Linked DNA regions of Homo sapiens. The protein of the gene in region 1 interacts with the protein of each later gene in a pairwise test. Each region holds a gene or a part of one and is shown in the gene's direction. Other genes may lie near its edges. The genes, in order: ROPN1L, AKAP14 and SPA17.

The links.
Region 2: the proteins of ROPN1L (region 1) and AKAP14 interact in binary tests that used the Homo sapiens proteins (3 or more experiments, as listed by UniProt).
Region 3: the proteins of ROPN1L (region 1) and SPA17 interact in binary tests that used the Homo sapiens proteins (3 or more experiments, as listed by UniProt).

What each region holds. Positions count from the first base shown.
Region 1 is NC_000005.10:10,443,838-10,453,886, forward strand, and holds part of ROPN1L (ropporin-1-like protein), read left to right. Parts: intron 1-4,422; coding exon 4,423-4,546; intron 4,547-6,114; coding exon 6,115-6,276; intron 6,277-10,049. UniProt on the Homo sapiens protein: Functions as part of axonemal radial spoke complexes that play an important part in the motility of sperm and cilia. Important for male fertility.
Region 2 is NC_000023.11:119,890,248-119,900,699, forward strand, and holds the start of AKAP14 (A-kinase anchor protein 14), read left to right. Parts: upstream 1-5,645; 5' UTR 5,646-5,740; intron 5,741-5,907; 5' UTR 5,908-6,020; intron 6,021-10,452. UniProt on the Homo sapiens protein: Binds to type II regulatory subunits of protein kinase A and anchors/targets them.
Region 3 is NC_000011.10:124,689,279-124,699,327, forward strand, and holds the end of SPA17 (sperm surface protein Sp17), read left to right. Parts: intron 1-2,417; coding exon 2,418-2,504; intron 2,505-5,024; coding exon 5,025-5,168; 3' UTR 5,169-8,240; downstream 8,241-10,049. UniProt on the Homo sapiens protein: Sperm surface zona pellucida binding protein. Helps to bind spermatozoa to the zona pellucida with high affinity. Might function in binding zona pellucida and carbohydrates.

The sequences.
Region 1 (10,049 bases):
GCCAGCATCTTCAAATCTCCCTCTGCCTCCTTCTTCCAAGGACACTGGTGATTGCATTCAGTGGCCATCCAGATAGTCCAGGGCAGTTTTCCCACCCGAGATCCTTATCAGTCCACAAAATCCCTGTTACCATGTAAAGTAACATTCCCAGGTTCCTGGAACATGGACCTGGATACCTTTGGGGCTGTTATTTTACCCACCAACTGAGCTACTTGTCCATCCAGTGCTTGCCTTCTGAGAAATGCTTTTATCAATGGTTTCTGAAAGACTCTTTCAAAGTTCTTGCTAAAGAAATATAGCCTCTGGTTTTAACCATTATTCAAGCTTAAATAAAAGGATTTATAAGAGTTTGTGCTGTACAAAAAATTCCAAGATTTAGCAACATCTTCTTGGAACATTAAACTATATTTAGTAATACCTTAGAGATAGTTATGTTAAGCTTCACTTTGTTTATTTATTTATTTATTTTTGAGACGGAGTTTCACTCTTGTTGCCCAGGCTGGAGTGCAATGGCGAGATCTCGGCTCACGGCAACCTCTGCCTCCCGGGTTCAAGCGATTCTCCTGCCTCAGCCTCCCAAGTAACTGGGATTACAGGCACTTGCCACCACACCCGGCTAATTTTTGTATTTTTAGTAGAGATGGGGTTTCACCATGTTGGCCAGGCTAGTCTCGAACTCCTGACCTCAGGTGATCTATCCACTTGGGCCTCCCAAAGTGCTGGGATTACCAGTGTAAGCCACCGCACCTGGCCTAAACTTCACTTTAAGAGGCTTAATCAGGCTGGGCATGGTGGCTCACACCTGTAATCCCAGAGTTTGGGAGGCCAAGGCTGATGAATCACCTGAGGTCAGGAGTTCGAGACCAACCTGACCAACATGGTGAAACCCCATCTCTACTAAAAATACAAAAATTAGCTTGGTGTGGTGGCACGCATCTGTAGTCCCAGTTACATGGGAGGCTGAGGCAGGAGAATTGTTTGAAACCGGGAAGCAGAGGTTGCAGTGAGCCAAGATCGTGCCACTGCACTCCAGCCTGGATGATAGAGCAAGACTCCATCATAAAAATAAATAAATAAATAAGAGACTTAATCAGGAACTTTCCGAATGTACCATGCTACTAATTTCTCTCAAGAGCCATTTATTTATTTATTTTTTAGATAGAGTCTTTTTCTGTGGCCCAGGCTGGAGTGCACTGGTGCTATCTAGGCTCACGGCAACCTCTGCCTCCTGGTTCAAGCAATTCTGCCTTAGCTTCCCAAGTAGCTGGGATTACAGGTGCGTGCCACCACGCCCAGCTAATTTTTGTATTTTTAGTAGAGACGGGGGTTTCACCATGTTGGCCACGCTGGTCTGGAACTCCTGACCTCAAGTAATCTGCCCTCCTGGCCTCCCAAAGTGGTGGGATTATAGGCTTGAGCCACCGCGCCTGACCAAGAACAATTTGTGAGTTTAGGAGAAAACCCAGGTATTATTCATTCGGCAGTATATATGTAATTGTAGGTTCAAATATGTTTCAGCTGTCACAGGACAGAATCTGTTAGGGAGAGCTATTCAAAAGTAACTTGAGTAAGGCGGGACTTGGTAAGTGCAAAAATGAAGGGTCACGAAAGTTAAGCAAAGTAGTGGCTTGGTCCTTGAGAGATTTTGTAGGCAGAGAGATTGGGGCTTGGGTGGGGTGGAGAGGATTCCAGGAAGAGGAAGCAGCACAGGAAGAAGGGGGTGGAGACAGGAAAAAGAAAAACCATCAAAACCAAAACAGGAAACCAGGATACCCACGGACATAACTGCTATAGAACAAGCAAGTAGGCTGAGCACGGTGGCTCACACCTGTAATCCCTACATTTTGGGAGGACGAGGCGGACAGGTTACTTGAGCTCAGGAGCTCGAGACCAGCCTGCACAACGTGGCAAGACCTTGTCTGTACTAAAAATAAAATTAGCCGGCCATGGTGATGCATGTCTGTAATCCCAGCTATTCAGGATGCTGAGGCAGAAGGATCACTTGAGCCCAGGAGTTGGAGGCTTCAGTGAGCCATGTTCACAACACTCTACTCCAGCCTGGGTGACAGAGCAAGAGCCTGTCTAAAAAAGAAAAAACAAACAAACAAAAAAGATGAAGCAAGTAGGCATTCCTCTTTCCTCAGGTTAGGGTTCTTTTCAAAGGTGCTTTTCAGGTGGGCAAATATCAAAGATGAGCCAGCCTCCCCCTAAGCCTGTGGACTCCACTGTGAGGGGAGTCGGCTGTTCCTTATGACACCATTGTGCAGTTGTGCCTCACACAGGACAATGAACATAAGAATCAGTCAAGTAATAGAGGCTGCTTTGGTTGGCGTGTGCCTCAAGGAACTGGCAGAGGCTAACATTAGTTGGTCTCACCTCAAAAGCAGGCATTTCCAGCCTCGGCCCTACTGACAGTTGGGGAGGGCACAGGAGGAAGGGGCATCTTGTGCATGATGGGACTTAGCAGCCTCCTGGCCTGCACCCACTGGATGCCTGGAGTACCATCCACCCTCTGTTGTGACAATCAAAAATGTCTCCAGGCCGGGTGCGGTGGCTCACGCCTGTAATCCTAGCATTTTGGGAGGCTGAGGCGGGTTGATTGTCTGAGCTCAGGAGTTTGAGACCACCCTGGGGGCAACATGGTGAAACCCCGTCTCTAATAAAATATAAAAAATCAGCTGGGCTTGGTGATGCACATGTGTAATCCCAGCTACTCAGGAGGCTGAGGCCGGAGAATAGCTTGAACCTGGGAGGTGGAGGTTGCAATGAGCTGAGATGGCGCTACTGCACTCCAGCCTAGGCCACAGAACGAGACTCTATCTCAAAAAAAAAAAAGCGTCTCCAGAAATTGCCAAATGCCTTTTGGCTGGGGAGGAGGGTGGCGGGTGGGGGAAAGAGGAGGAGCATTATCCCCCACTGAGAACTCTGCCTCCAGAGGCTGTATCTAGCTCGGGATTCCTTGCCTGAGTTATGAGGAGTTACCCCCATGAAATAGGTGAAAACCTTGATTAGTAGGAATGTGGCAAAACGAGGCACCTATTCTTCACCCACACCCTTTAGGTCTTTAGGTTCACATTTGTCTAACTCACTGCTGCCTTCAAATCATTAACAAAGCCACAAAATGGAGCTGAAGTTGTCTTACAAAGCAAGGAAACAAAGTCAAATTTGAGGGGTGTAAAGAGAGAGAAAGGATGAGATATGAAGTTTATTTTAGTCTATCAGATATCGACTTATCCATATTTATCTGTAGCAATGTTTCTAACTACCCATGGCTTTAAAATTGTTATCTGTGGCCCTGGTGGATGCTTTGATGTTCATTTGCCTGGATATGCTGTCTCTTTTCATCATGCTAAAGTCATTAGGGCCCCAAATGATGTGGCTTCAGCATCGCCACCTCTGGCAAAGATACCAAGGGGCGTGAGTTTCTCAGAAGGTCTTGCCTGGCACCCCTCCCACCACGAGCCAGAGGCTGGGTGTGGGTTCCCTCTTGACTTATTGCCCCAACAGTTTCCCACTCTTGCCCCCAACATAAGCAGCAATATCAGTGTCCCAGAAAGGAACAATTAAGGGGAACAATACCAGGCAGGAAAAGTGGGGGTGGGGGGATGGGAGCCAGGCCAGCACCTGCCATTCCCAGTGTGGAAGTAGGTGACCTGTGTGTTCCTGGGCTGCCTCAGGGTTGAATATGCAGAGACGCTTAAAGTCAAGCACCTCAAAAAGCAGCAAGACCAAACCCACCTGTCAAAAGTGGGAAGACGGCCAGGCACAGTGGCTCACGCCTATAATCCCAGCACTTTGGGAGGCCAAGCTGGGAGGATCACTTGAGGCCAGGAGTTCCAGACCAGCATGGGCAATGGAACAAGACCACATCTCTGTAAGAAATAATTAAAAAGATTAGCCAGGTGTGGTGGTGTGTGCCTGTAGTCCCAGCTACTCAGGAGGCTGAGGCGGGAGGATCCCTTGAGCTTGGGAGGTTGAGGCTACAGTGAGCCATGATTATGCCACTGCACTCCAGCCTGGGTGACAGAGTGAGACCCTGTCTCAAAAAATTTAGGAAAAAAAAAGAAAGAATAATACATGGAACTCCAGCTGATTGTGAAGTGGCAGGGAGGAGGGGAAGAATCACACATGTTGAAGGAGCTTCTGCGAGTGCCAGCCACTGCGCCAAGCCCTTCTCACACAATGCTCCCCAACCCTCCAACAGGGAGTCTCATTATCCCCTTTGCCAACAGAGAAACTAAGGCAGGCAGAGAAGGTTAAGTCAGAGAACCAAGTGGAGGAACCAGGACATAAGCCCGGGATGTTGGTCTTCAGAGCTGTCCTTCCTAATCACCGTTGTTTTGGGGGGTTATTTAAGAAATTGGATCGCATAGCTGTTTTTTGTGTATTGATGAGCTTTCAGAGATGTCTGTTATTTATTAGCTATTTTTCAGCTCTGTCGAGAGGAGATCCACTTCCTGTAAAGGACAGAATGGAAATGCCCACGGCAACCCAGAAAACAGACACAGGCCTGACTCAAGGACTCCTGAAAGTTTTGCACAAGCAGGTATGGGGGGGCGTAGTCTCTGGCCTCAGGCAGCTGGCCTGTGCTTTCCTTACCGTTCACTGTGCATTGATGACAGAGCGGGGCACACCCCAGCAATGTATTTCAAACCTCCTGAGGTCCCTGAAATCCTGCTTTCCCTGCCACGCATCGTCAAGGTTGATTCAAGGAAGAAATATGTTGTGTCTGGGAGGTCTTTTTCTAGCTTCAACAGCCCCAAGTCACTATCCAGGGGTAGAGTTTAGAAAAGTGAAATATAATTTCTTTTAAATACAAAATTTACATGACACTAGATTCTGCTGGGCAAAACATACAAAATTTCAGAACCTGGGGGGTTTCCAGTCCGTTCTCCAGGTGTGTGTTTGTGAAAGCTGTGCGCAGGCCTGAGTAAGCCTCTGCCTTCTCTGTCTGGAAGGCGGGGCTGGCCTTTGGCCCCCAAGGTGGGCAGCAGCCTCTGGTGTCCAGTGCTGTGGAGAGCCTGGGCCCCCTTCCTGCCTTGCGCTTCTTTGCCCCACACGCCATCCTGTTTTTACAGACGTGAGTTACTAGAAAGTGGGTCACGGAGCAAGGCTAGGCCTTCCTCATGACTCGGTTCTTTTGCTAAAAGAGACACCAGTGGCATAACCTTGATTTTCAAACTGACTTATCCCCATTCTACACTGTGAAGTACTGTGCTTCTGCGCAGGATACAGTGAATTCTGAAACTAGGACTACCTTAAGGGAAGCAAAGAACTCTTGAATGGTGTAGCTTGCGAAAAGACATGCTGAAATTGCTCAAAGCCTTTTCATCCAGGATACTGCTAGCAGATTGCAGAAGTTTTCAGTTTTGATAGATTGTTTAAAATAGTAGAAGGAAGGCCGGGCATGGTGGCTCATGCCTTTAATCCCAGTACTTTGGGAGGCTGAGGCGGGCAGATCACTTGAGGTCAGGAGTTCAAGACCAGCCTGGCCAACAAGGTGAAACTTTGTCTCCAATAAAAATACAAAACTTAACAGGGCGTGGTGGTGCGCACCTGTAATCCCAGCTACTTGGGAGGCTGAGGCGGAAGAATTACTTAACCCTGGGAGGTGGAGGTTGCAGTGAGCCGAAATCATGCCGCTGCACTCCAGCCTGGGCAACAGAATGAGACTGTCCAAAAATTAACAAATAAATATATAATAGAAGAAATACATTTATTTTCAGTTTTAAGATCTCTCCTATCTAACTGTTAATGTGATTAGGGGCTGGATTTTTAAAATGTTTTTTACTGAGCTTTATTTTTTATTGTGAAGCATTTCAGACAGATAGTGGAGTATCGTATACTCAATATCAGTATGCCTGTTTCATTAAGTCATAACATGATGCCGTATTCGCTTCACCGTCCTTTTTTCATTTAATAAATAAAAGGTTGCCGCTCGCTGCCTTCCCTGCCTTCCCTCCCCAGGGCTGACAGAACCCCCTGTCATGCATTTGGAGTTCATCTGTCCCCTGCATGGGGCGGGTTACTTGGTGTGTGTTGAATATTCACAGCATTCATTGTTTCCCAGGTTTTAAAACATACATAAATTGTCATGCTGTGTTTTCCAAACAGTGTCACCACAAGCGGTATGTGGAATTAACAGATCTTGAGCAGAAGTGGAAGAACTTGTGCCTGCCGAAGGAAAAATTCAAAGCGCTCTTACAACTGGATCCTTGTGAAAACAAAATCAAGTGGATAAACTTTTTAGCGCTTGGATGCAGCATGCTTGGTGGGGTATGTACCTATAAACAGCATATTAATAATTCTGTGTCATCATGGTCCCAGCTTAAAAATAATTTAGGTTTCAGTAACTAAAGGAAACACTTTAGTAACTTTGTCTTAGAAAAGCATTTCCCCCTGCTCCAGGCCTATTATATTAATATTTTCAGGTGTACAGTTATTTTAATTTACAGAAATTATTTATGAATGCCTCAATTTAAAAGTTAATAGTAGATGAAAGATATGGATACTATTAAAATATATTTAGGTTTTAGAAGAAAATGCATCAATGACTTTTTAAAACTACAAATCATTTTGTAAACTGATAACTGTTTTGCTCATCTGTGGAAAGAGGCATACAATTATTTTCTACTTTAGTAGAAATCTATTATTATTATTTATTTATTCATTTTTTTTGAGATGGAGTTTTGCTGTTGTTGCCCAGGCTGGAGTACAATGGCGCAATCTCGGCTCACCGCAACCTCCGCCTCCCAGGTTCAAGCGATTCCCTGTCTCAGCCTCCCGAGTTGCTGATAGCTGGGATTACAGGCATGTGCCACCATGCCTGGCTAATTTTGTATTTTTAGTAGAGACGGGGTTTCTCCATGTTGGTCAGGCTGGTCTCGAACTCCTGACCTCAGGTGATCTGCCCACCTTGGCCTCCCAAAGTGTTGGGATTACAGGCGTGAGCCACCGCGCCGGCCTTAGAAATCTATTATTAATAACTAATAGATACAGTGAGATTTTGCTGATGTTTGAGTATAAGCCAAGCAACTTAGGAATAAGACATGATCCTCCAGGTGACGAGGCGAGCCTGGGAGGTCGGGGCGAGAAGGGAGAGGTTGGAGCTGGGATGATGTTGGCAGGGCTTCCTTTGCAAACCCAGAGTCAGTCTTCTCAGCTAAAGTCTTGCTGTGAGACATGGTGGTTGGGTGAAGGAAGAGTAACCAGGCATCTGCCATGTGAAGCTTATGAAGAAAGGAGGCAGAGAAAGGAGAACCAGCTCCCTTTACTACATAGATGAACAATTTGATTTTCCCCCCTCCCTTCAGTCTGTGGCCCCAGTGTGTATAACTGGTCCTTGCTTCACAGCCCTCACTCAGCTTTGCTCCATGCACAGAGCTCTTTCATTCCATTTTCATTAAAACAAATTACTTGAAATGGGTGGTGGTAAACACCCGCAAGGCTACCCAATGTGGCCACTAATGCACCAACAGTCACTTCCAACCACCTGTGGCCTCCTCCCATGTCCTGTCCCCCTGCCTGGTGGCCTGAAGCAATGACATTTCTGAAGTTCCTGCTTCTCGCTTCCTGACCTCTGAAACACATGCTTCTATGTGTCCCGCAAGAGGTACACTGTGGAATTTTAGTTGGTTTTGACTTGATGAAAAGACATTTGTGTTGTCAGTAATTTTCTGAAATTTTCATCCTAAATTATATGACTAGATGTATTCATCTGTACATCACAGGCCACGTTGTTCATTCCCTTCCTTCGCCATGTCACATCTGAGTGTGGCGCAGTTCACCAGCTCTGCAGATGGCCCCAGTGGGAAGCTCCGTGCCCTCAGGGAGTCGGGTGTGGTGTGGCTGTAGAATGAGCAAGAGTTTTGTTGTGTAACTGCTCAAAGGCAATGGAGGTGCTTCCTGTCAGCCCCGGGCTAATTGTGCCAAGGCCTGGATGTTGGCAGGCATGGTACCCTCCAGTAGCAAGGACAGGTGCAGATGGCACCAGGGGAGTGTCTCAGGGGTATTATCAAGATAGACAAAGGCAAATACTTTTAATTATTGGAGACATTTTTATGTCACTTTGTTAATCTGGAACTCTGTGAAATCTATCTATCTATCTATCTATCTGTCTATCTATCTAATCTATCTATCTATATCTGTATCTAGCTATATGTTTTTTGAGATGGAGTCTCACTGTGTCACCCAGGTTGGAGTGCAATGGTGTGATCTTGACTCACTGCAACCTCCCAGGTTCAAGTGATTCTCCTGCCTCAGCCTCCCGAGTAGCTGGGATTACAGGCATGCACCACCATGCTCAGCTAATTCTTGTACTTTTAGTAGAGATGGGGTTTCACCATGTTGGCCTGGCTGGTCTTGAACTCCTGACCTCAGGTGATCTACCAGCCTCAGGTTCTGGGATTATAGATTACAGGTGTAAGCCACTGCACCCAGCCTAAAGTATATGTGTGTGTGTGTGTGTGTGTGTGTGTCTGTGTGTGTGTGTGTGTGTGTGTGTATTTTTTTTTTTTTGAGACAGAGTCTTGCTCTGTCACCCAGGCTGTAGTGCAGTGGTGCGATCTGGGCTCACTGCCACCTCCGCCTCCCAGGTTCAAGTGATTTCCATGCCTCAGCCTCCCAAGTAGCTGGGATTACAGGCATGGACCTCCACGCCTGGCTAATTTTTTGTATTTTTAGTAGAGACAGCGTTTCACCATGTTGGCCTGGCTGATCTTGTACTCCTGACCTCAGGTGATCTGCCCGCCTCGGCCTCCCAAAATGCTGGGATTACAGGTGTGAGCCACTGCACCCGGCCCTGAAATCGATATGTTAACAATATAAAATTGTATGCAATGTTTGAATTAATGTTGGTGGTTTCTGCCTCTAAGCTTAGTTGTAAAATTTTGATTTTAAAATGATGAGAAAGTAGAATAATTCATGTTTTTGGATCCATCTTTATAGTTTTCACCTTCCTAATTGTGAAAATTAAGCACTAGATTTAAAACACAATTGAATCTGATTTGAAAAATAAGGCCTCTTGTCCATGTAGAGTGTGTGACACTAGATGGAGACATTGTGTTAAGGATAGAGCTTGGCCGTCTAAGCTGACTCCTGGGGAAGAGACATCACAAACAGCACACATTCTTTTGGGTTCTTCCTATCATAGAGAATAAATTGACACCAGGAATCATGCTGTGCATCACTGCGGGTTCCTGCCTGTCTCCTGACTTGAGCCACCTTTGCCAGCAGGACTCCAGATTTGCCCTTGACTCCTTCCATAGGTGCTGGAGGCCTCTCCTGGTTGTAGAAAGCCACAGCCACCCTCTGCTCTGGTCCAGTGCGGCTGTAGACTCAGGGTCAGGTTCAAGTGTGGAAGCTGACCTCTCCTCCCTCAGAGGAGCGTGTGCTCGTCTGGGGTCCATGTCTGCTGCCAGGGATGCCTGCTCTGCCCTGGCTCCCGCGGCCCACAGAGTGCTGAGCACGAGTTCAAACACCTGTCTCGGGGTGCGCTGGGTAGACAGGAGGTGCTCGGACCCTCCAGGCCTTGGTGTGGACAGTTGTGTTGTTGACCTTGTTGGCCCTGGGTGGCTTGGAGGTGTGCTAAGAACACAAAGCTGTGAATTCAAGGAGGGGTTTCTTCATGTCGTTCAGCGTCATAAGCGTTCATTTTTATGCTTTAAAAAAATACCTTCAAAAAGGAGGAAATGAAGTGCGATGAGAATAATTTGTAGTGGATTACCACCTGCAGAAGTTTATTTCACATAGGATGCTGTGTAATTGGTGGCTAGCCGCTGCCTGCGTGAGCGGGATAGATGTCGTTCCTGCTCCCTGCATCTATGGCGGGGGCGTGGCTTGTGGCAGGTGTACTCTCTGTGCTGTTTACATTTATTTATCTTAGAAATCACTCTAGTCAAATTCATCGAGTTGAAGATCTCTAAAAAGACTGGAAACCTCTGCTTCAATTTCTGAATCATACATACCATTCATTCCACAAATGTTTACTGTGCATTATTTTGTGCCAGGCCCTGTTCTAAGTGCTGCAGGTTCTGGAGTGAACAAAACGG
Region 2 (10,452 bases), on another chromosome or scaffold:
GACCATGCACGGCCCATACAAATCCTCTTTCAGGCTTGGCTTCCGGGCACTGACCCTACCACATGAGAGCTCAGGACACACTGGTCCCTGGAGTACTGGGCTAATTCTCCCAGCTCAGCAGAGTGGTGGGCTCTTCCCGGTTCCTCTGCTTTTGGAGTCTGTGCTGGTCATTGAGAGGTGACAGCGTGCTGGCAGTCCTCACAGCCCTCGCTCGCTCTCCGCGCCTCCTCTGCCTGGGCTCCCACTTCGGCGGCACTTGAGGAGGCCTTCAGCCCACCACTGCACTGTGGGAGCCCCTTTCTGGGCTGGCCAAGGCAGGAGCCGGCTCCAGGGAGGTGTGGAGGGAGAGGCGCCAGCGGGAACCGGGGCTGCGCGCAGCGCTTGCGGGCCAGCTGGAGTTCCGGGTGGGCGTGGGCTTGGCGGGCCCCGCACTCGGAGCAGCCGGCCGGCCCTGCCGGCCCCGGGCAATGAGGGGTTTAGCACCCGGGCCAGCGGCTGCGGAGAGTGTACTGGGTCCCCCAGCAATGCCGGCCCACCGGCGCTGCGCTGGATTTCTCACTTGGCCTTAGCTGCCTTCCCGCGGGGCAGGGCTCACGACCTGCAACTCGCCATGCCTGAGCCTCCCACCCTCTCCGTGGGCTCCTGTGCGGCCCGAGCCTCTCCGACGAGCGCCGCCCCCTGCTCCACGGCGCTCAGTCCGATCAACCACCCAAGGGCTGAGGAGTGCGGGCGCACGCGCAGGACTGGCAGGCAGCTCCACCTGCAGCCCTGGTGTGGGATCCACTGGGTGAAGCCAGCTGGGCTCCTGTGTCTGGTGGGGAGGTGGAGAACCTTTATGTCTAGCTCAGGGATTGTAAATACACCAATCGGCGCTCTGTATCTAGCTCAAGGTTTGTAAACACACCAATCAGCACCCTGTGTCTAGCTCAGGGTTTGTGAATGCACCAATCGACACTCTGTATCTAGCTACTCTGGTGGGGACTTGGAGAACCTTTGTGTGGACACTCTGTATCTAGCTAATCTGGTGGGGACTTGGAGAACCTTTATGTCTAGCTCAGGGATTGTAAACGCACCAATCAGCGCCCTATCAAAACAGACCACTCGGCCCTACCAATTAGCAGGATGTGGGTGGGGCCAGATAAGAGAATAAAAGCAGGCTGCGGGAGCTAGCAGCAGCAGCAACCTGCTGAGGTTCTCTTCCACAATGTGGAGGTGTTGTTCTTTTGGTCTTTGCAATAAATCCTGCTACCGGCCACTCTTTGGATCCACACTGCCTTTATGAGCTGTAACACTCACTGTGAAGGTCTGTAGCTTCACTCTTGAAGCTTAGCAGGACCACGAGTCCACCGGGAGGAATGAACAACTCCAGACTAGCCGCCTTAAAAGCTGTAACGCTAACTGCGAAGGTCTGCAGCTTCACTCCTGAGCCAGCGAGACCACGAACCCACCAGATGGAAGAAACTCCGAACACATCCGAACATCGGAAGGAACAAACTCCAGACGTGCCACCTTAAAAGCTGTAACACTCACCAAGAGGGTCCGCGGCTTCATTCTTGAAGTCAGACCAAGAACCCACTAATTCCAGGCCCAGTCAGTCTTACCATCATCATGATACGTTAACTAATGTTTATTGAGCATGTACAATGTATCTGTCCTTGTTTTGAGGTCTCTGTTTGAATCACCTAAATTCATCTTTTTACCAACCCTATAAAAAGCCTATTAAGATCCCCATTGTGCACATGAGACTCAGAGAGGTAAAACTATGGAATGAGACCACTGCTTCTCCTGTTGTCCTTCTTAGCTTCTCCCCCACCTCCCCTTTGCCCTAGTTTATGAGACAGGAGAAAAGGGAGAAAGCAAAAAGTTGGAAAGAAACAGAAGTAAGATAAATAGCTAGACGATCCTGGCGCCAGCACCTGGGTGGTGGTTAAAATAATAACACCAGTAGTTTTGGTCAGGGGTTATCTGTGAATTCCAGACATTGTATGAGAAAGCACTGTAAAACCTTTTGTTCTGTTACCTGATGTATGTAGCCCCCAGTCACGTTCCTCACGCTTACTTGATCTATTATGACTCTTTCACGTAGACTCCTTAGAGTTGTAAGGCCTTAAAAGGGCTAGGAATTTCTTTTTCGGGGAGCTCGGCTCTTAAGACGTGAGTCTGCCGACGCTCCCAGACAAATAAAAAACCTCTTCCTTCTTTAATCCGGTGTCTGAGGAGTTTTGTCTGCGACTCATCCTACTACAAAACAACCTGCCTGAAGTCACAGTTACAACGCCAGTATGTGGCAGAGCTCGGATTTGAAACCCTGTACTGTATCTGCATTCAGAGTCTGTGTTGTTTCTTTTTTTTCCTTTGTGACAGAGTTTCGCTCTTGTTGCCTGGGCTGGAGTACAATAGCACAATCTTGGCTCACTGCAACCTCTGCTTCCCAGGTTCAAGCGATTCTCCTGCCTCAGCCTCCCAAGTAGCTGCGATTACAGGCCAGCACCACCATGCCTGGCTAATTTTTGTATTTTTAGAAGAAATGGGTTTTCACCACGTTGGCCAGGTTGGCCTCGAACTCCTGACCTCAGGTGATCCACCCGCCTCAGCCTCCCAAAGTGCTGGGATTACAGGCGTGAGCCACTGTGCCCGGCCCAGAGTCTGTGTTTCTTCTACTAAACCACACTGTCTCCAAAACTCCTCCCTTCCCACCCTCCATTCCCCTGCCTCACCACTCCACCTCCACAGCATGATCTCTGGGTGTGGGACCTCAAAACATGTGATGTCTTCCAGGCAGTGAGCTCAGCATTTCTTCCTGGATAAAGACACTTAACATTGCAGTTTTCTTCCTTTGTTGGGTTTGAAATCCACTGTCTTTTTTTTTTCTTTGAGCCGGAGTTTCGCTCTTTTCGCCCAGGCTGGAGTGCAGTGGCGAGATCTCGGTTCACTGCAACCTCCACATCTCCGGTTCAGGTGATTCTCCTGCCTCTGCCTCCCAAGTAGCTGGGATTACAGGCGCCTGCCACCATGCCCAGCTACTTTTTAGTAGAGACGGGGTTTCACTGTGTTGGCCAGGCTGGACCTGAACCCCTGACCTCAGGTGATCCACCCACCTCAGCCTCCCAAAGTGCTGGGATTACAGGCGTGAGCTACCATGCCTGGCCAATACCACTACTATAAATAATACTATTAATAGAAATGATATCTACGCTGGGCATGGTGGGTCATGCCTGTAATCCCAGCACTTTGAGAGGTGGAGGTGGGAGCCTAGGAGTTCAAGACCAGCCCAGGCAACAAATAGAGACCTTGTCTCAACAAAACAAACAAACAAACAACAAACTGGGTGTAGTGGCACATGCCCGTGGGCCCAGCTACCCAGGAGGTTGAGTTGGGAGGATCACTTGAGCCTGGGAGGTTGAGGCTGCAGTGAGCCTTGATCACACCATTGCACTCCAGGCTGGGAAACATTTTGAGATCCTGTCTCAAAAAAAAAAAAAAAGAAAGAAAGAAAAAGAAAGGCTGGGCACAGTGGCTCACACCTGTAATCCCAGCAGTTTGGGAGGCCAAGGTGGGCGGATCACCTGAGGTCAGGAGTTTGAGACCAAAAATTATTTGGGCGTGGTGGCAGGTGCCTGTAATCCCAGCTACTCAGGAGGCTGAGGCAGGAGAATCGCTTGAACCTGGGAGGCGGAGGTTGCGGTGAGCCGAGATAGTGCCACTGCACTCCAGCCTGGGCAACAAGAGCAAAACTCTGTCTCAAAAAAAAAAAAAAAAAAAAAAAAAAAAAAAAAAAAGAGAGAGAGAGAGAGAGAGAAAGAAAGGCTATCTAATCATTATAGAGAGAGATTATGATGTACCAGGCATTGTTCTTGGTCTTCACATGAATTGCCTGGTTTGATCCCCATAAAATCCCTATTCTGTAGGCATTGTTATTAACCCCATTTTATAGACAAGGGAACTGAGAAAGAAAAATGTTAAATTGTTCCTGAGTGTAAGCTGATAAGCACTATATCTCTTTCATCTTTGATTCATAAAAGACATCTTTGAAAGCTGTAAAAGGAAAATAAAAACTTGGGACCCCAATTCACTCTGCCAAAAGGAAAAAAAATTAAACTGAAAGCTGAGTCATGCAAGAAGCTGCCTTTCCTTTTGTTCCTAAGCAGACAGCTACAAATAACAGGTTAAATATCTCCACCTGTAGCTACTCTATGTTTACCTTATCTTATGTAAAGTGCTGATTTACTGAGCAGGAGACGGATACATAATTGATTCTTCCTCTACCTGCTCTTTTTCTCTTGCAACATGTGGATTCAATCATGTGACCATACCTTCCCTCTCTTCCCTCAAGCTCGCATTTCCCCTTTATTATTATTATTTATTATTATTATTATTGTTATTATTTGAGACGGAGTCTAGCTCTTGTTGCCCAGGTTGGAGTGCAGTGGTGCAATCTTGGCTCACTGCAACCTCTACTTCCCGGGTTCAAGCGATTCTCCTGCCTCAGCCTCCCAAGTAGCTGGGATTACAGGTGCCCCCCACCATGCCCAGCTAATTTTTGTATTTTTGGTAGAGACAGGGTTTCACCATATTGGCCAGGCTGGTCTCCAACTCCTGATCTCAGGTGATCTGCCTGCCTTGGTCTCCCAAAGTGCTGGGATTACAAGCGTGAGCCACTGCACCTGCCCTTGCATTTCTCCTTTAAATACTGAAGCCTAGGCCGGGCGTGATGGCTCAGGCCTGTAATCCCAGCACCATCAGAGGCCGAGGTGCATGGATCGCCTAAGGTCAAGAGTTCGAGACCAGCCTGACCAACATGGTGAAATCCCGTCTCTATTAAAAATACAAACACTAGCTGGGTGTGGTGGCAGGAGCCTGTAATCCCAGCTACTTGGGAGGCTGAGGCAGCAGAATCGCTTGAACCCGGGAGGCAGAGGTGGCAGTGAGCCAAGATCGTGCCATTGCACTCCAGCCTGGGCAACAAGAGTGAAACTCCATCTCAAACAAACAAACTAAAACCTGAAGCCTGGCCAGGTGGGGTGGCTCATGGCTGTAATCCCAGCACTTTGGGAGGCTGGGGCAGGAGGATAGCTTGAGCTCAGGAGTTCGAGACCAGCCTGGGCAACAGAGCGAGACCTTGTCTCTACAAATAATTTAAAAATTGGCCAGGTGTGGTGGTGGCACACCTATAGTCCCAGCTACCTGGGAGGCTGAGGTGGGAGAATCACTTGAGCCCAGGCAGTGGAGGCTGGGGTGAGCCATGACTGTGCCACTGCATTTCAGCCTGGGTGACAGTGAGACCCTGTCTTTAAATAAATAAATAAATACTGAAGCCCTCAAAGTCATCTTTGGAGAAAGGCACAGACCTGTCTCCCAGACACATCCTTAACCTTGGCAAAATAAACTGGTAAATTGAGACCTGTTTCAGATACTTTTTGGTTTGCAAAGCAATGAAGTACACATGGGAAGTCCTAACCTCAGAATTTGGAAATGAAAAAGTAAAAGCTCAGCCAAAGAAGTCAGCTTTGGGTGTGAGTTTGGGACAGTACTTTCTGTACCTCAGTCTGTTCAACTGCAATATGCAAATACTAATACCTCATAATGCTATTGTGAGGAGTAAATGACTTCAGACACTGAAGGCTTAACACAGTGACTGGCATATCATAGGGATGCCCAATACATACCAGCTGTGAGGCTTATCACCACTGTTCTTCCTGGCATGGCCCTGTAAGCTCATCTTCGGCTGAAGAGAAGCTAGGTATAGCTACTACAGTTTGGTCCTATTATTGCGGTCAGACAGTTGCTGTGATTGGCTCTCCCCTCCTTCCCTCACCCCCTCCCATCTTACCCTCTGTTATTAACATAAGCAGTCAGAAACATGTAGGCTATGCTTCCCATTGGTTGAAATTGTTGTTTCCTTGGCAGCACTTGCAAACATTCCATCTGGCAATCTGAGAGAAGCTACTGAGAGAATCCTGAGACATCCCCAGCCACCTACCACTGCTCCTGTTCCAAGCAAAGAAGATCTGCTCACTCCGGTACTGGGGATTCTCCGGGGTGGGGGAGTCCACAGAAAGGACTTGCAGTGGTTCTCCCTATTCATCACCCAGACCCCAAACGTTACCATTCCCCCCATCTCTTCCTACCCACCCTGCCTATCTGGCCTCTGAGAAGGGGAGGGGAGGAGAGGGGAGGGGAGGGGAGGGGAGGACAAGGGAGAGGGAGGGGGAGGGGAGGGGAGCGGAGGGGAGGGGAGAGGAGGGGAGGGAAGGGAAGAAAAATAACTAGGAGATGCCAGTGGGAGGGAGGCTTAAGAATGGTGTGGGCCCACAGACGTGTGAGGGTAAAAATTGAGCTTCTTCCTGGGCACTGCTCCCCATCTTCCCTCTCCTGTTGGAGCACAGGCTCCCCAGGGAAAGTCTTAAGGAGGTCCTTCCATGCATAAAGCACACACCCCATGTGCTTCGTGTTGGAGGTCACAGATTTGACTTCTCATCGATTTATCAATAGGAAATTTGCTGAAAGCAAAGTTACTGAATGTCCAAGTTACCAAATGGGCAATTTTCTTTTCTTTTCTTTTTTTCTTTTTTTTTTTTTTTGAGACAGAGTCTCGCTCTGTCGCCTAGGCTGGAGTGCAGCAGCGCGATCAAGGCTCACTGCAACCTCCGCCTCTGGTTTCAAGTGATTCTCCTGCCTCAGCCTCCCGAGTAGCTGGGACGACAGGCATGCACCACCATGCCTGGCTAATTTTTGTATTTTTAGTAGAGACGGGATTTTGCCATGTTGGCCAGGCTGGTTTCGAACTCCTGACCTCAGGTAATCCTCCCACATTGGCCTTCCAAAGTGCTGGGATTACAGGTGTGAGCCACCGCGCCCGGCCCCAAATGGACAATTTTCTTTCTTTCTTTTCTTCTTTCCTTCTTTCTCTCTTTCTTTCTTTTCTTTTTTGAGGTGGAGTTGCACTCTGTTGCCCAGGCTGGAGTGAAGTGGTGAGATCTTGGCTCACTGCAAACTCTGCCTCCCGGATTCATGCCATTCTCCTGCCTCAGACCCCCAAGTAGCTGGGACTACAGGCACCCGCCACCACGGCTGGCTAATTTTTTGTATTTTTAGTAGAGACGGGGTTTCACTGTGTTAGCCAGGATGGTCTCGATCTCCTGACCTCGTGATCCGCCCGCCTTGGCCTCCCAAAGTGCTGGGATTATAGGTGTGAGCCACTGCGCCCGGCCCAAATGGACAATTTTCTAAAGGATCAAGTTGATATATGGCTACCTCACCAAAGTCTACTGAAATTACCAATTTACCCAAAAACCTTTGTACAGTTGTCTTTAACTACAGAGTTTATAGCAGGTTGCTCTGGCCAAATTGGCATGGCCTAAGTAAGGGCTAGGGAGAGCCAGTTCTCTAGTGTTAAGGACCTTTAGGCTCCTCACTGACCACCCTTTAGCCTCTGGCTGCTCTGGAGTGGGCAACCTGGAAATGCTCTGTGTGCTCTGGCAGATGATCCTGTCTACCTCCAGCTGCAGCAACAAGGAACTGGGGCAGAGGCAAACTGAGCTTAAAAATGCCAACATCAGTCTGGGCAACATACTGAGACCTATAAAATAAATAGCCTGGTGTAGGCAGGACACGGTGGCTCATGCCTGTAATCCCAGCATTTTGGGAGGCCGAGGTGGGCAGATCACCCGAGGTCAGGGGTTGAAGACCAGCCTGGCCAACATGGTAAAACCCTGTCTCTATTAAAAATACAAAAATTAGCTGGGCATATTTTTGTATTTACAATACTTTTGTATTTTGTATTTACACACCTGTAATCCCAGCTACTCAGGAGGCTGAGGCAGGAGAATTGCTTGAACCCAGGAGGCGGACGTTGCAGTGAGCCGAGATTGCGCCACCGCACTCCAGCCTGGGTGACAGAGTGAGACTCTGTATCAAAAGAAAAAAATAATAGCCAGCTGTGGTGGTATAGGCCTTTAGGCCCAACTACTCAGGAGGCTGAGGTGGGAGGATCACTTGAGCCCAGGAAGTTGAGGCTGCAGCTAGCTGTGATTGCGCCACTGTACTCCAGCCCAGGTAACAGAGCAAGACTCTATCTCAAGAGGAAAAAAAGGAAAACAAAAAGCTAAAATGAACAATAGCCAACATTATTTCAGGGATGTTCAAAGGCTGTCCCAGTGGTTCTTGAACTGATGGCCGTTGGAGCCAGGTTGCCTTTTGCAGTATCTACTACCCCCTGGGATCAATGATGATGTCAAGAAAGGAAACAGAGAGTTGCCCTTTGTCCGGGCGTGGTGGCTCACACCTGTAATCCCAGCACTTTGGAGATTACACCAAGGCAGGTGTATCACCTGAGGTCAGGAGTTCAAGACCAGCCTGGCCAACATGGTGAAACCCCATCTCTACTAAAAATAACAAAAACTAGCCGGGCATGGTGGCGGACACCTGTAATCCCAGCTACTTGGGAGGCTGAGGCAGGAGAATCACTTGAACCCAGGAGGCAGAGGTTGCAGTGAGCCGAGATTTCGCCATTGCACTCCGGCCTGGGCAATAAGAGTGAAAACTCCGTCTTGAAAAAAAAAAAAAAGAGTTGCCTTTTGTGAAAGAGGCTCCCAGAGAGAGAGTGGGTCACTGGACTCTAGATGAAAATGTGAGAATAAGGCCAGGCGCGATGGCTCACACCTGTAATCCCAGCACTTTGGGAGACTGAGGTGGGTGGATCAGGAGGTCAGGAGTTCAAGACCAGCCTGGCCAAGATGGTGAAACCCCGTCTCTACTAAAAATACAAAAATTAGCTGGGCGTGGTGGCAGGTGCCTGTAATCCCAGCTACTCGGGAGGCTGAGGCAGCAGAATTGCTTGAACCCAGGAGGCGGAGGTTGCAGTGAGCGGAGATCGTGCCACTGCCCTCCAGCCTGGGTGACAGAACAAGACTCTGTCTCAAAAAAAAAAAAAAAAAAAGGAAGAAAGAAAATGTGAGAATAGGGCCCTACTGCTCTTTCTCAATCTTGGAGGGAGAAGAGCAGCACAGTTGAGAGCATGGGCTGTGAAGCCAGACACTGTGGGTGTACAGCTCAGTTTCCTCATTTTCACATGGCAGCAACAGGCCCTCTGTCTGTGACTCAGGGCTCCTGTAGGAAACTGTTGGCATATTAAAATGAGGATAGCTGTAGAAGGGTTAAGTAAGGGAATATTTACAAAGGTGTGGCCAGATTGCAGGGCAACAGAGGAAGGTGCAGCTCCCCGGGGCTAGTAACAGTGGGCCTAAAACGTTGAGGGGAGAGAATGCTTACCCTTACCACACTGGGAAGCTGGGAGAGCGCCACCCTGAAAGACGCTGGGGACTTCATGCAGCCAGCCATCAGCCAACTCGCAGGGAGAAAACCACCAGGGACATACATTTTGACTTCCTGATCTCCTTATTGTGTGGAACCCCCTAGAAGCCAGAGGGCACCATTTATGGGTGCAGTCAGGTTAGTTTTCCAGGGCAGGAAGCAGGAGGAGATGCAAGGACAGTGGATTTGGAAAGGCAAATGGAAGGTGCCCAGCGCACTCTTTCATAGGGCTGTGATGACAGTTAAATGAAACATAGCACATTAAACACCCCCAAATTGGGAGCTGTTATTTATAGAAAAATAGCTCCATTTGGAGAGAGATACCCACTTTCATGTAGCCCTTCCACTCAATGGAAGGATTGCTTGCAACATACTTATTTTTTATTTTTTGAGACAGCCTTGCTCTGTCACCAGGCTGGAGTGCAGCGACACAATCTCGGCTCACTGCAACCTCTGCCTCCCGGGTTCAAGCAATTCTCCTGCCTCAGCCTCACGAGTAGCTGGGATTACAGGTGCTGGCCACCATGCCAGTCCAACTTTTTTTTTTTTTGAGATGGAGTCTCACTCTCATTGCCCAGGCTGGAGTGCAATGGCGTGATCTGGGCTCACCACAACCTCCGCCTCCCAGATTCAAGCGATTCTCCTGCCTCAGCCTCCCGAGTAGCTGGGATTACAGGCACGTGCCACCACACCTGGCTAATTTTTGTATTTTTAGTAGAGACGGGGTTTTGCCTTGTTGGCCAGGCTGGTCTTGAACTCCTGACCTCAGGTGATCCACCCGCCTCGGCCTCCCAAAGAGCTGGGATTACAGGCATGAGCCACCAAACCTGGCCCAGGCCAATTTTTGTATTTTTAGTAGAGATGGGGTTTCTCCATGTTGGCCAGGCTAGTCTCAAACTCCTCACCTCAGGTGATCTAACCCCTTGGCCTCCCAAATTGCTGGGATTACAGGCGTGTGCCACCGTGCCTGGCCATGTTTTTTATTTTCTCTGAGACAGGGTCTCGCTCTGTCACCCAGACTGGAGTACAGTGGTGAGATCACGGCTCCCTGCAGCCTCGACCTCCCAGGCTCAAGTGATCCTCCTACATCAGCCTTGTGAGTAGAAAGCTGGGATTACAGGCACACATCACCATACCTGG
Region 3 (10,049 bases), on another chromosome or scaffold:
AAAGCACAGGCAACAAAAACAAAAATAGACAAATGGGACTTAATTAAGCTAAAAAGCTTTGCACAGTAAAAGAAATAATCAACAGAGTGAAGAGATAAGCTGTTGAATGGGAGAAATTACTTGCAAACTATTCATCCAACAAGGGACTAATATCCAAAATACACAAGGGAGTCCAACAATTCAACAACAACAAAAAATAAGTAATCTGATTAAAAAGTGGGCAAAGGGCTGGGCGTGGTGGTTCATGCCTGTAATCCCAGCACTTTGGGAGGCAAGGCAGGAAGATTGCTTGAGCCCAGGAGCTTGACATTAGCATGCGCAACATGGTGAAACCCATCTCTTCAAAAAATTAGCCAGACGTGGTGGTGTGCACCTGTAGTCCCCAGCTACTTGGGAGGCTAAGGTGAGAGGATCACTTGAGCCCACAGGTCAAGGCTGTAGTGCACTCCAGCCTGGGCAACAGAGTGAGACCCTGTCTCAAAAAAAAAAAGAAAAAGAAAAAGAAAAAAGAACTTGGAAAAGGACATGAATAGAGATTTTTTAGAAGAAGACATACAGATGTCCAACAGGTATATTAAAAAATGCTCAATATCACTAATCATCAGAGAAGTACAAATCAAAACTACAGTAAGATATTATTTTACCCCACTCAGAATGGCTACTATGAAAAAGACAAAATAATAACAGATACTGGCAAGGATTCAGAGAAAGGAGAACTCTTATACACTGTTGTCAGGAATGTAAATTAGTATAGCCTCTAAGGAAAGCAGTATGGAGATTTCGCAAATAACTAAAAATAGAATGACCATTCAGTCCAGCAATCTCTCTACTAGGTATCTACCCAAGGGAAAATAAATCAATACATCAAAAGATACATTCATTTTTATGTTGTTTGCAGCACCATTCACAATAGCAAAGATATTGAATCAACCTAAGTATCTGTCCAATGGATGAATGAATAAGGAAAATGTGGGATGTATACACAATGGAATACAATTCAGCCATAATACAGAATGAAGTCGTGTCTTTTCCAGCAACATGGATGAAACAGGAGGCCATTATCTTAAGTGAAACAAGCCAGGCACAGAAAGACATGTAGTGCTTGTTTTCATTCATAAGTGGGTGCTGAAAAAATGTGTTTAAATGGACATAGACGTGGAATGATAGATAATGGAGACTCAGAAGAGTGAGGAGAGGTGGGAGAAAGGAGAATAATGAGAAATTGGTTAAAGGCTAAAATGTGCAGTATTTGGGTGATGGACACCCTAAAAGCCCTGACTTGATCACCAATCCACACATGTAACAAAATTGTACATGTACTCCATAAATTTGTACAAATATAAAAGAAAAAGAAGAAATTCAAAGTATTGGGCCCCATTCCAGGTCTACAAATCAGAAGTTACATTTTTAAGAGATCACCAGAATAATTCGTAGGTACATTAAAATTTGAGAACACTGCTCTAGACAACTGAGGTAGTACTATTAGCCACAAAGCACAGCAGATATTAGAATTGAAAAGAATTAACAAAGTTCAAGTTCTCCAGTAGATTTGGGGAATTTCTTGAAGAAGGAGCTGTCACTTATTACACAAGTTTGAAAGTGAAGTTCCATCCATTTGTGCCTGCAGGTATGGGTGTGTTCTGTGTATTTCCATTTTACTAGATTCTCTGTGCTCATGTTTTATTTGTATTCATGTTTATCGAAGTCAAAGGAATAATGTTGAAAGATTTTAAATCCTTGCATCACATAGCAATTTTGGGGTGTTTCTTTTTTTAATTCTAAAGGCTTTATTTGATTAACTTATATATTCTTAAATTTTGGTTTTATGGGTTAAAGAAGCTCTTTCCATAGGTGTGAATTAGCAATGAAGGAAGACTTAAATAGCCATGTCAAAATAGGCAGAGGTGGTTTCTCCTTTTATATTTAAATCATAAAGCAAAACTCCACAGCAAAACTTACTTCTCTGACTAGTTTTAATCCATAAACGTCACTAAAAAGTCAATTTGATGTCACATTATGGAACACAATGCCATTTATTTTATTCCTATTTTAGAAACTATTGGATCCTCTTTTTTATACTTTGTTCAGGATTCATTACATCATCTTATCAACTTTTAGTATAGGACAGTGGTTTATTTTTAACATAAAACAGTGGTACACACATTCCAAAAGCAACAGATCAAACATTTTTGCCAATTATTTGGTCTTTAATATTTGTTTACACGTATTTCCTTAAGAGCTTTTATTATTTCTTCTTGTTTCAATGTATTTTCCTTATTAAAAGATAAATACGTAGTATTTAATTCCCCCTATTTCTCAGTAATTTAAAGTAATGTTTCATTACTTCTAAGCAGTTTGATACAAGACTTTGCCATTTTGGAAACATTGCTAATTGTGGCTCTCTCCTATCTGTCCAGGAGCAAGAACCACCTGAGAAAAGTGATCCTAAACAAGAAGAGTCTCAGATATCTGGGAAGGAGGAAGAGACATCAGTCACCATCTTAGTATGTAATATTTTTCATGTACTATTGGATTCCTACAAAGAATGATATTGCCCAATTTAAAACTGAACTCCAAATATGAATGTCTGTTATCTTTATTGTCAAAATTATGACTTTACTTTCCAGATAATTAACATCAGTGATAAACTAACTGGTAGATAATTTTCAGCCATGCCTCTCTTGATCAAAAATTCATTTTTCCTTTAAAAATGAAATCTTATTTTTCAAGATTGTTAATGGATGGAAAAATCTCCCTATGGGGAAGGGCAGACAGAACTCACAGACCCAGTCATGATCCTTCAGATTCATCTTCCACTTTGGGAATTTTTCACTAATTGGTGCTGTCACCACTACACAATGGCAAATTTCAGAGATAACAAAAGGAAAATCACAGGGAATTACATACAGCCAAAATAATGGCTTTACAACAATGTGGCTTATTCATCTTCCATGCATAACGCTCTACAAAAATGCCTTCGTGCCTGATGTACTACATCCAAGCAGTCAAGACATAGCGGAGGCCGGGCGTGGTGGCTCACGTCTGTAATCCCAGCACTTTGGGAGGCCAAGGCAGGCAGATCACGAGGTCAGGAGATTGAGACCATCCTGGCTAACACGGTGAAACCCCATCTCTACTAAAAATACAAAAAATTAGCCGGGCATGGTGGCGGGCGCCTGTAGTTCCAGCTACTCGGGAGGCTGAGGCAAGAGAATGGTGTGAACCCGGGAGGCGGAGGTTGCAGTGAGCCAAGATCACGCCACTGCACTCCAGCCTGGGCGACAGTACAAGACTCCTTCTCAAAAAAAGAAAAAAAAAGACATAGCGAAGTCCACCCTCAAAGGCCCATTGTTCAGTAATGTCACTTTAATAACTTGAAGTCAGCCACAATGAGAATATTAAGACCATGGCAAACACTGCAAATCAGGGCTTTGTTTCTTCTGGAGAGCCAGTTGTTAAAACACTTACCAGTACATCATTGTCTATATTCTTCATACTCCAGACTCTTGTGGACTAGGCCTCATAAGAAAGAAGAACTCACTCTCTAAAATGTCGAAGTTCAAACTTCTGAGTTCCTTTTTATGTCTCAGGTCCCAGGTAGTTGCCCAAGAACTGGCAGCCAGAATGGATATCCCCTCAAGGAATACCCTACTTCCTACCTAGTGATGCATTGCTTTTCCCTATAAGATTTACAGGTTGTTCCACAATTGCCATTGGGTTGTACTGAAATAACATTACATTAGGATATAACAGGAAGATTAACATTAAGATGTAACAGGAAGTCAAGGAAGAAGGGAGTTTTATTTCCTTACATCTTTCATAGGTGCTTTTACACAGGTTTTCATGAGTTTGAGTAGGGATCTCATTGATTTCCAACTTGAGTGTATTTGTTTGCTATATTAGGATGTCATCTCGAAGAATTTTATACCATTCTGTTTGCATTTAAAAGTTTAAGAGCTAGATTTGTCTCATTATTTATAATAGGGGGATAGGAGGCTTGAGCAACCCAAAGGTCCATTAATATGAGATTGAGTAAATATTAAATCAAGGTACATCAGTATAATATAATGATGTCATAAAAAAAGAATGGGGAGAGTTATACACTGACTAATAATACAGAAAAAGAGAACCAAGATATATCGTTACATGGAAAAAGTAGCTGCAGAACTCTGTGATTAGGATGATCTCATTTTTAAAATAAAAAGACATATATATATATATATACCCATATGAATATATTTGCATATAGAGAAATTTTGGAAGGATGTAGATACTCAACTCATAATAATGGGTATCTCCCAAGAGCAGGATTTGGATAGGTGGAGAAAACTATCACTGCCAGTGACATTTGAGTTTTTAAAGTGTATACATGTCATTTCTATAATTTTAAAAGATATATTAAAAGCTGTATATTCAATTGTACGCTGAAGATTCATGCATTTTACTGTCTGTAAATTTATAGCTAAAAATTTATACCCAATTTTTTTAAAAGAGGGTATGTGCCAAAGTTCAACCAACCCTGTTAAAACTGACATTATTGGACTAAATGGATTTCTCTTTGGCACCTCACTTTAAATGTATGACGATGATTAACTAATCATTGAGAAATTGAGAAGTTATTCTAATTCATTATATGTAATTGTGATTATTTTGAAACATAACATTTACAGTTCTTTCTTCTTAACATTTTTACCATGCCTCAAGGATTCTTTCTTGTCCCCCCAACCCCCCAAAAAATGTTGTTGCTCAGGAAACTTAAATAGGCACTATTTTAGGGGAAAGAAAGTTGGCAATGATCTTTTGTTGCAGAGACATATTAAAAGAGTGACAAAACAAAATGCCTGCTATTTTGGCATTTGCCATTTGGTACATATACAATGTGACAATATATGAAATTCCCTCAGGAAGCAACAGCTCTCAGATAGTTGCATCCCTAAAATGATTAAATTTCATCCATTTATTTTTGTGGCATCAAAACTACGCCATATTTAAAGAGTCTCTTACTTTTTCTCCTTTCGATGAAGGACTCTTCTGAGGAAGATAAGGAAAAAGAAGAGGTTGCTGCTGTCAAAATCCAAGCTGCCTTCCGGGGACACATAGCCAGAGAGGAGGCAAAGAAAATGAAAACAAATAGTCTTCAAAATGAGGAAAAAGAGGAAAACAAGTGAGGACACTGGTTTTACCTCCAGGAAACATGAAAAATAATCCAAATCCATCAACCTTCTTATTAATGTCATTTCTTCCTGAGGAAGGAAGATTTGATGTTGTGAAATAACATTCGTTACTGTTGTGAAAATCTGTCATGAGCATTTGTTTAATAAGCATACCATTGAAACATGCCACTTGAAGATTTCTCTGAGATCATGAGTTTGTTTACACTTGTCTCAAGCCTATCTATAGAGACCCTTGGATTTAGAATTATAGAACTAAAGTATCTGAGATTACAGAGATCTCAGAGGTTATGTGTTCTAACTATTATCAAATGAATAAATCCTCTCTATCACATCCCCCAAAAATGTTCTTTAGCTCCTGTTTCACTCCTAGTGGTAAAGAATTTCACTGCTTTTTAAGGATAGTCTATTTAATTTTGGAATTTTTAGAAAGATAAGCTGGGACAAAAATCTGCCTCCTTCAGCCTGGCCAACATGGTGAAACCCCATGTCTACTAAAAGTACAAAAATTGGCCAGGCGTGGTGCGCACACCTGTAATCCCAGCTACTCGGGAGGCTGAGGCAGGAGAATCGCTTGAACCTGGGAAGTGGAGGCTGCAGTAAGCCGAGATCGCACCACTGCACTCCAGCCTGGGCGACAGAGCAAGACTCTGTCTCAAAAACAAAACAAAACAAAAAAAAGCCTCTGCCTCCTTGTAAGTTTAACCCACTGGTTTTCATTTATCATACATGTATTCAATCATTTATTGAAAATGTATTGAGTACTATTCATGTGCTGGGAATTAGTAGTGAATACTTGTTCTTACACTCATACAACTTACAATGCTTTATTGTTTTGCTCTCCAGAACCACACAGAACAAGACTAATAACATCATATTGTAAAAAGCAAAAGCTATCATATCATGCTGCCTTCTTCAGTTAAAACTTCCCAAGTTTTTAAATATACAATGGTAATGCCTGTTTAACAAACTCAGAGGCTTTATCTCTTTTATGTTTTCAATGATTCATTCAAATCCCTAGTGCCTTAGTTTTAGAAAGTTCCGTCTCTCCTTTTTGAGGCCTCTCCACCCTTGATTGTCCAAGAAACTGAGGGTTCATGTCTTAGACCAAAGGGTGCAGTTCTCTTCCCAATACAAAAGGTAGAAAGTGGAGTCTTACCATTTAGTTAATGCTGTTGCCTTCTACCATAATGTTGTAGCATAGTCCAGCAGACTGAGGTGATTCTCTGGCTGGTTCCAATTCCTGCCTGCACCATAGTGGATGGCCCATGATTTAGTTCCAGGATTACATCTCTCTTGGTTTATAGTCACAAAGCCAGTGTTCCCCCAAAGCTTAAAAACAAGCCAGGATGGCTCAGTCCTGAGGAGATTCTAAAACCAGGTCTATGTTGTCACAACAAATACTCTCCTACAAACACTTTGATCCTTGTCCTAGGCTTAGACATGCTCTTTCTGCAAAGCAGTTTTATTTCAGGTGCCTCACTGCCCTTCCCTGGCACTGAGCCTTTATCAGGCTCTGCAACAGAGGTTCCCCCAAGTGATCGCCACTCAAACACAGTTGATTCACACCAACCCTTTCAAGGTTGTGGCTTTCATTCTCTAATGTCCACTCATACAGGCAGCCTTTCTCCTTCCAAAATCTTGCTGCCACTGTAGAGAGTTTCATGCTAGCTAAACACAAGTCTCTAATATCCCCCTTCCTCTCCTCCTTAACCCCTCTCCTCCAGGCTTACAGAGGAAAAGAAATCAGTTCTCCTCCAGGATTCCAGCTGTTCGTCCCTCCCATTCCACTGAAAGCACCAGCTTCTAACACCTTCCCCTCTCAGACAGAGCCATCCTGCTTAGCGGATTGTCAAGGGGGGACCCAGAATTTATGCAAAGACTTAGATTCCCTGACCTGGAGAGATCAGAAGAGGAAAAAAGGGATTTTTTCCCTAGTGAGTATATAGCAGGAAAAAAAAAAAAGATGAGTTAGCTTTTTCAGTAATTCTCCTGTTATACACATAAAGTGACTAGCACTATGCATTCCATACACACACACACACACACACAGATCTCATGGTAGTGATATTGGTAGTGAAGGAGGAAAAGGAAAAGGTGAGCAATGGATGTGATATTATGAGAACAACACATATGAATGACACTTTATTAGAACTTATCTGGTTTTCCTCTTATCTCTCTGGCTGTTCCTTCTCAATTCCCTTCACTGGTAACTCTTCAACTCCCCAACCACTAAATGCTAAGTGCCCTTAGGCTCAGTCTTTCGACCCCATTTCTACACTCACTTGATTTCCTGCAGTTTCATAGCTTTAAAATCCAATCTTCTTAATGATCACTCCCAGACCTTTCTCTCCTCTGCCTGCGAACTTCTATATTCAACTGCCTACATAACATCCCCATTTGGATGTCTATAGGCATCTCAAAAGTAACATATAAAAAATGAATCCTGATATTGCCCCCAAATCTGAAACTTCCCCCACACCCAAGTTTTTCCATTCAAAAATGGCTGCTCCATTCTTCCATTTGCTCAGGCCAAAAACCTTGGATTCATCTTTAATGCGTCACTTTCTTTCACACCCCATATACAATCTATCAGCAAAACCTGTGGGCTGTACCTATAAAATAATACTCAGAATCTGCCTACTTCTAACCACTTCCATTGTTACCGCCTTGGTCCTAGTTCCCATGATAGCCTTGTGAATTATTGCAATAACCTATATTGGCCAGTGATTATCTCACTACTACTGCACAACCCATTCCAAAGTTAGTGGTTTAAGACAATTATATTTTCTCCTGGGTCTGTAGGTCAGTGGTAATGTAGCTAAGCTAGGCTGGACTACAATCTCAAGGTTAGGTTCAGGTCAGCTCTAAGCTGTGGGTTTGTGGGCTGACAGGAAGGTCTGCTTCAGGCTGTGGGCCCAAGGGTCAGCTGCAGCACAGTGCCTCTGCTTCACGTGTCCTTTTCTGAGCCCCTGCTGAAAGACGTTATCCAGGACAAGCTCTTCTCATGCTGGTCACAGAAGACAAGCAGGAAAACCCAGCATGCAAGAATATTTCAAGCTTTTGCTCATATCACTTCCACTGACATCCCATATACAAAAGAAAGTCATCTAATGAAGCCCAAAGTGAGGAGGATGAGGAAATACACTGTTCACCAATAGCAAAGGCTTCATGTGTGCATAATACTACTACAGGGTAGTGAAGAATTGCGACCAGTAATTTAATCTACCACGATCTGCTTTCTTGATTATAATTATGTCTTTACCACATGCAAAAATTGACCCACTCCTATCCCAAAACCCCTAAAAGTTCCATCACATCTTTGAAATCCAGGATCTCATGATCTACATCAGGTCCAGATATAGCCCTTCTTGATATAGAGACCTATGAATTAAAAGAGCAAGCATCTTTTTATCACATACCAAACATACAACAAATGATGGAATAGAGACAATAATAACCACAAAAAAATACTCTTATTCACAAAGGGGAGAAATGGAAGCAGATCACAGCCACTGGTCCATAACAATTAGGAAAACTCATTGGACAATGGTTGTCAGGTTCCTCCATTGGAGGGAATTGTGTTTCATGATTAGGCACTGTTTCTGCTCCTTAAAAATGACTTTCCAGTCTATCCTCCACAGCTCTTTGTTCTACACTCTAGGGAATCATTCTTTTTCCCTCATCTTCCTTAGTCACTTGCAAAGGACATTAGAGAATATGCCCTTTTTGGTGGATAAATGGGTTCTTCAACCTGCTTTCTGCCTGTAGAAAATTAGAGGCCAATAATCTGTTTATATCTTGTAGAATGTCTATTTTAGCTGGTACCGGTACTTTTGTCAATAAAGTTCTTTTTTAAACTTTGTGGACTTCCTATGAATTTGACTATAGTCAACTCCACGTGCCAAAAGGTGTGGTGCACTCGCAATTTCTTTCAAGATTTGCCTCCCTTTATCTCTCTGTTTCCAATTCTGTTAAGAGTGAAAAATTGGAACCAATATTTCAATATATAGATATCATAACTGCCGAGCATTCACTATCCCTTCTTCTCCCAGCTTCCACCTTGTGTTACTCAGGGTCTCCAGAGAAACAGAGCCAATAGAATATATATAGATATATGACTAGGAATTTATTATGGGAATTGGCTCATGCACTTATGGAGGTTGAGAGAGCCCACAATATGCTGTGTGCAAGCAGAGAACCAGAGAAGCCAGTGGTGTGATTCAGTCTGAGTCTGAAGGCCTGAGAACCATGGAAGCCAATGGTGTAGCTCTCAGTCCAAGGCAAAAGCCCTGAGAACCAGGGGGGCTGCTGGTGTGAGTCCTGAAGTCCCAAGGCCCAAGAACCAGCACCTCTGGTGTCCAAGGACAGAGAAAAATGGATGTCCCAGCTCCAAAAGAGAATTTGCCCTTCCTCTGCCTTTTAGTTGGTACTGGTACTTTTGCCAATAAAGTTCTCTTTTAAACTTTATGGACTTCCTATGAATTTGACTATAGTCAACTCCATGTACCAAAAGGTGTGGTGCACCCTTCCCAAGATAATTTGCCCTTCCTCTGCCTTTTTGTTCTACCCAAGTCCTCAATGTCAATCTGCCCACACTGGTGAGGGCAGACCTTCTTTACTTAGTCTACCAATTCAAATACTAATCTCTTCCAGAAACATTTTATCAGCTATCTGAGCATCCCTTAACCAGTCACGTTGTCACAAAAAAATGAACCATCACACACCCTTTCCCCCTTTCAACACATCAGCCAGAGTATCCTATTATAATTTAAGTCACATCATGTCACTCCTCTGCTTAAAACCCCCAACGGCTCCTCATTTCACTCAGAGTAAAAGTCTTCCTTATGGTCACAAAGCCCTGTGGAGATCTTTCCT